Linked DNA regions of Homo sapiens: region 1 is linked to region 2. Evidence: fine-mapped expression QTL. A gene starts in region 2. The other region holds a variant in brackets. All regions are shown on one strand. Distances are between the middles of the regions.

Region 1 (2,914 bases), 55 kb before region 2:
AGGTCAGGCGCGGTGGCTCAAGCCTGTAATTCCAGCACTTTGAGAGGCCGAAGCAGGTGGATCACCTGAGGTCAGGAGTTCGAGACCAGCCTGACTAACATGGTGAAATCCTGCTTCTACTAAAAATACAAAAATTAGCTGGGCATGGTGGCAGGTACCTGTAATACCAACTACTTGGGAGGCTGAGGCAGGAGAATCGCTTGAACCTGGGAGGTGGAGGCTGCAGTGAGCTGGGATCACACCATTGCACTCCAGCCTGGGTGACACAGTCAGACTCTGTCTCAAAAAAAAAAAAAAAAAAAGACTGCCTTGGGATATTAGTATACACCTATTAGAACAGCTGAAATAATATACAGCAGTGGCAATATGAAATGCTGGGAATAATGTATTCTGGAGTAACTAATCTCTTATACATTGCTGATGGGAACAGCAATAGTGCACCCACTCTGGAATATAGTTGGGCAGTTTCTTCAAAAAGTAAACAATTTTATGACCCAGCAACTGCATTCCTAGACATTGAACTCAGAGAAATAAACTTATGTCTACACAAAAGCCTGTACATTACTGACCCCAAACTGGAAACAACCAAAATGTCCTCTGACATGGTGAAACAAACCATGGACCCCCCACGCCACTCTGACATGGTGAAACAAACCGTGGACCACCCACGCCACTCTGACGTGGCAAAACAAACTGTGGACCACCCACGCCACTCTGACGTGGTGAAACAAACCATGGACCACCCATGCCACTCTGACGTGGTGAAACAAACCGTGGACCACCCATGCCATGGACACTACTCAGCAATAAAAAGGAGCTGACCACTGATGTGTGCAATAACTTGGACGAAGCTCCAAGGCATTACATCCAGGGAGGAAAACATCTCCGAAGGTCTACACTGCATGAACTGTACGATGTGTCCACTTATGTCACAAAATGACAGCATTATAGAGTGGTGGTGGGGTTCGGATGACTAAAAAGGGGTAGATGGAGAGAGATTTTTGTGGTGATGGAACTGTTCTGTATTTTGTGACCGTGGTTACGTGAATGTCCTCATGTGATAAAATGACAGAATGAAGAAAACACTCCACCAAGCTCAGTTTCCTGATTTTCATATTGCACTATCCTAAGGTGTAGCCAATGGGAGAAATAGGGAAAACATTTAATTAGCATAAGATCTAGTATTCCATAGCACAGGAGGGTGAATATAGTTAATAATAATGTATTGTATATTTTTAAATAACAAAAAGAGTGGAACTGGAATGTTCCTAACAAAGAAATGATACAGGCTTGAGGTGATGGATACCCCAGTTACTGGGAGTTGATCATTATACATTGTATGTCTGTATTAAAATATCAAGGTACTCCATAAATATATACACCTTTTATGTACCCACAGTAATTTAAAATTTTAAAAATTTAGCAAGCAAAATGTGACAAACATTAAATTTAAATACAGTTAGAAACAATGAATCTAATCATATACTAAGTTGATGGCACAGTGTGGGAAAAATGCTAATCTAAGTAAAATTCTTAACAGCTTTAATACAATTTCTATGCAATAAAATATACCCGTGTTGTGTGTGCAGTTCAGCGACTGTAGTAAATGTGCAGAGCTGTGCACCCATCACTCCAACCCAGTTTCCGGATACTTCCGTTACCTCAGAAGGATCCTTCTTGCATTCACTCCCTATCCCCTCCACCCAGCCCGACAACCACTCAGTCACCTTCTGTCTTTATGAATGTGCCTCTTCTGGACATTTCATAGAAATGGGATCATATC[G/A]TATGTGGCCTTCTGTGACGCCTTTTCACTTGCATGGTGTGTTTAAGGTCCATCCACACTCAGCACGTTTCCTCGCTGCACGATACTCCAGTGTCTGGATACACCCATTTTGTCTGTCCATGCATCAGCTGATGGACCCACTGAGGTGCCTTACGCGAGCCCAGCACTATTCTGCGTGCGGGGGGTCCCTGCTTTGGTCCAGTTTCATGTTTGTGTGTGGATACCTTCAGAGGGCGGTAACTGATGAAAAGAAAATAAAACTGGGTGAAGCGTTCGAGCGAGAGGGGCTACCATCTGCATGGGGCCGTCATTCATATTTATCGTAGCCTACTGTCTGCAAGTACTATTCTAGGCACTGTCCCAAATCCCTGCTCTTACAGAAGGTATATTCTAGTGGGGACCAGACAACAAGCATAGAAGGTGACAGAAAGAGTCAAGAAAAGGCAGAGGCAACCCTGGGGAGGCTCGCTGCTATTTCAGGCCGATGGTTGAGGGAGGACTTCTCAGGAGAATGTGAGCCAACAAGTAAGAAACGGAGTTGCTGGGCGTGGCGGCTTACGCCTGGAATCCCAGCACTGTGGGAGGTAGAGGCGGGCAGATCGCTTGAACTCAGGAGTTCAAGACCAGCCTGGGCAACATGGTGAAACCCTGCTCTCTACTAAAAATTAGCTGGGTGTGGTGGTGTGCACCTGTAGTCCCAGCTACTCAGGAGGCTGAGGTGGGAGGATCATCTGAGCCCAGGAGGTGGAGGCTGCAGTGAGCTGACATTGCGCCACTGCCCTCCAGCCCTGACAACAGAGCAAGACACTGTCTCAAAAACAAAAAAAGAAAAGGAAAAGAAAAAAAAGGAATCATGCAGGTACTGGTGGGAACAGTGTCCCAGGAGAGGGAAAGGCAAGGAGAACGAGTACTCAAAGGCACCTTTGAGGAAGTAATATTTGAGCTGAACGTGCGTGACAAGGAGGACCAATGCACGCACAGATCTGGGAGAAGAGCAGTGAGGTGAGGGGGCAACAATCAGAGCCACAAGAAGCCCCTGAAGAGAAGCCTGGGGCACTGAGGACAGCCAGCAGGATGACTCCTGGGGTTGGGCCTGAGCTACAGGGAGGCCATGCCATCTTCTGACAGTGG
Region 2 (2,914 bases):
GCACTTTCGGAGGCCGAAGCAGGTGAATCACTTTAGTTCAGTTGTTCAAGACCAGCCTGGGCAATATGGCGAAAGCTCATCTCTACTAAAAATACAAAAATTAGCCAGGCATGGTGGCGCACGCCTGTAGTCCCAGCTACTCCGAGGCTGAGGCGGGAGAATCACTTGAACCGGGAGGCAGAGGGTGCAGTGAGCTGAGATCACACCACTGCACCCCAGTCTGGGCCACAGAGCAAGACTCTTATCTCAAAAAAACAAACAAAAAAACAAAAAAAACCAGGTGCAAGCACATTATAAGGGGTGAAATTAACCAAAAAAAAAAAAAAAATTGCTTCCAAACAGCAAATATTTCCCATCCTCGCTCCTTTTTAGAGTATAATGTCGGAGCTAATTCATTAATTTTCAGACAAACTAAACATTTTTGTTGACAGGACCAGCGCATTTCTCTCCCCATACAAAGGCTTCAGAGGAAATCAAACAACCAGATGGTCACTTGGGAGACTGGAGGCAGTGAATGTGGAGGCTGAGGGAACTTTCTCTCACCCGTTGTATGACTTTGTTCAAGTTTTTAGCTTTCCAGGTTTATTAAATAAATAAATATTCTAGGGGCTGGGACTTGAGATCTTTTTTAATATAAGCACTACAGCTATAAATTTCCCTCTGAGTACTGCCTTGGCTGCATCCTAAATACCTTTTGGTGTATTCTATTTTTGTTTCATTTGTCTCAAAACAAGGTCCCCGTTGTAAAGACTTATTTGACCCACCGGTTGCTTTAAGAGTGTGGTGTTTCATGTCCACATATCTGTGAATTTTCCACTTTTCCTTCTATTATTTTTAATTTCGTTCCATTACAGTCAGAAAAGATACTCTGTACGGCAACGAACGTGACAATATTGCATTCTGGAGAGTATATGAACACAACTAACTTATACAGTTGTAACGAAGGCTAAATGATGTGCGTGAATCATGCGCAAGAATCGGTGGGCAGAACACCGAATAAATACCAGTTCTTACATGACATTTCACTCCACGGAAAAATCTGGAGCGCACACTGCACCGCCGCCCGTGTGGCCTGCCCGCAACCCGGTGGCTCTGCCCGGCCCCGGCCCCCGGCCCCGGCCTCAGCCCCGCACCTCGTCTCCGCCCGATGGTCCACTCCCGCTTCCTCAGGAGGACGTGCGGCTCGCCCTCCTCCGCGCCCAGACGCAGGAGCCGTCCCCAGGGCTGCGGCGGCGGCGACTGCTTGCCTTCCTCGGGCCGCTCCATCGGGATTCACATCTGCGGAGACCCCGGAAACGCCCATGGAGACTCCCGACCCCAGAGGCCGAGACTCGGCGCCCGCCCCACCCCGCGGGCCCCGGCCCGGCCGCCCGCGCCCACGCAGCCCCGCAGCCCGGCCTGGACGCCGGCGGGCGCCCCCTCCCACGGCCGCAACCAGGTCCCCCTTCGCCGCCCGCCGCAGCCCCCTCGCCAGCCGCGCTTACCCCCGCCCCGCGCCGAACCCGGAACCGGCTGCGCCGCCGCCGCTGTCAAGAGACATTGCGGCTCCCTCAGCTGATCCGCGGGGCGGGGCCAGAGGCCTCTGCGCCCCGCGATTGGCTGGCGGCGGCGCTCACCAAGAGCGGCAGCTAAAGCGGAGCCGGGAGTGGCCCGCGAGAGTAGGCGCGTGGAGGGCGCTCGGCCATCTTTGATCCTGACCAGGCGACTTCGTCGCCTGCGGATCACGGAAGTGGCTGCGGTCGGCGCCATGTTATGTTGGGGCAGAAGGGACGGGGAACTTCCGGATTGGAAGCCCCAAGGATTCTGAGAGCCCCGCTAATCTGGGGATGACTCCTAGGAGTAGAAGACGGTCCATCTTAGTTGTCACGAGGTAGTGCACGTGGGGACCCTTTCGGGTACAGTTGCACACAGTGGATCACACAGATCCGAAGTCTGAGGCACAGGGCGCGGTCCGCGAGTGGGAGCGGCTGCTTGTGGGCAGGGTGGACGCGGGGCCACGTCTTGGCCGGCGTTTTGCGGGGTCTTCCTGTTCTGAACGCGCGTAACTTTTGCCTCAGTATCTCACTTCTTGGAATCCGGCGGCGTTCACGTGTGTGCTCCAGAGAAGGGCGCCAGAGGGTATTCCCTGAAAGTGAAAGGTCGGCGAAAGAGGAGTAAAGACGGCGAGACGCGTCCACGCAGGGGGAGTCTGTGCGGTTTGGAGGAACGCGCCAATGTCTGCACTCATGAGGAGCCCCCAAGGGCGGTTTTAAGAGGGTGAAGCAGGACCGGGCGCAGTGACTTACGCCTGTAATCTAAGTGCTTTGGAAGGCCTAGGCAGGAGGATCTCGAGCCCAGGAGTTCGAGATTAGCCTGAGACCTCATCGCTACCAAAATAAATAAAGTAGGCATCCATTTGTGTAAAACAAACCATATATACACACATATATACATATATAAACATTTGTATATATAGGTATAGGCATAGTTATCTATACCTTGTAAACCAAAAATAAAATTGTAAGCCTCCCCAACCAACTGAATGAACTGAGTCTCTCAACGCCAAAGTTAATCTGAAAAACCAGTTCAGTCCCTGATGGGAAGCAGGGTTTGGATATGTCCCATTATACTGTCCTCCCTTTGGAATTCAGGTATAACTGACCAGCGTCGACGTTAAAACAGACAACTTAAGGCTGACCAAACGGTCTGTAGCATTAAGATACATCACATGACAAATAGCAGGCCCTGGAAGAAAACGAAGTATTTTACCCTGACATGTATTTATTTAACATAGTTTTACGTAGCCCTGCAAAACTGTCTCCTGGGGGAAATCTACTTTGTAGAGAATCTCCTTCCTTTTCCACATCTTTTCCTGATCCAGGAGAGAATGTAAGACTCTGGCACCTTTTTAACTCTGATAAGAAAAGTTTACCAT

Evidence for each region.
Region 1: its variant is fine-mapped to the expression of CHFR in blood mononuclear cells (TOPMed, PIP 0.98).

What each region holds. Positions count from the first base shown.
Region 1 is chr12:132,831,215-132,834,128 of GRCh38, forward strand. CHFR (checkpoint with forkhead and ring finger domains) reads right to left here. Exons shown (of 18, transcript NM_001161346.2): 18 at 1,142-2,914. Among named protein-coding and RNA genes, the nearest start is that of GOLGA3, 3.8 kb to the left of the region's middle. The variant G/A (reference allele first, on the strand shown) is at 1,784.
Region 2 is chr12:132,886,063-132,888,976 of GRCh38, forward strand. CHFR (checkpoint with forkhead and ring finger domains) reads right to left here and starts at 1,543. Exons shown (of 18, transcript NM_001161346.2): 1 at 1,485-1,543; 2 at 1,134-1,278. The coding sequence starts at 1,266. It overlaps CHFR-DT (CHFR divergent transcript), which reads left to right and starts at 1,780. Exons shown (of 2, transcript NR_110919.1): 1 at 1,780-1,870; 2 at 2,058-2,509. RefSeq lists a silencer at 1,400-1,519 and enhancers at 1,590-1,999, 2,336-2,914.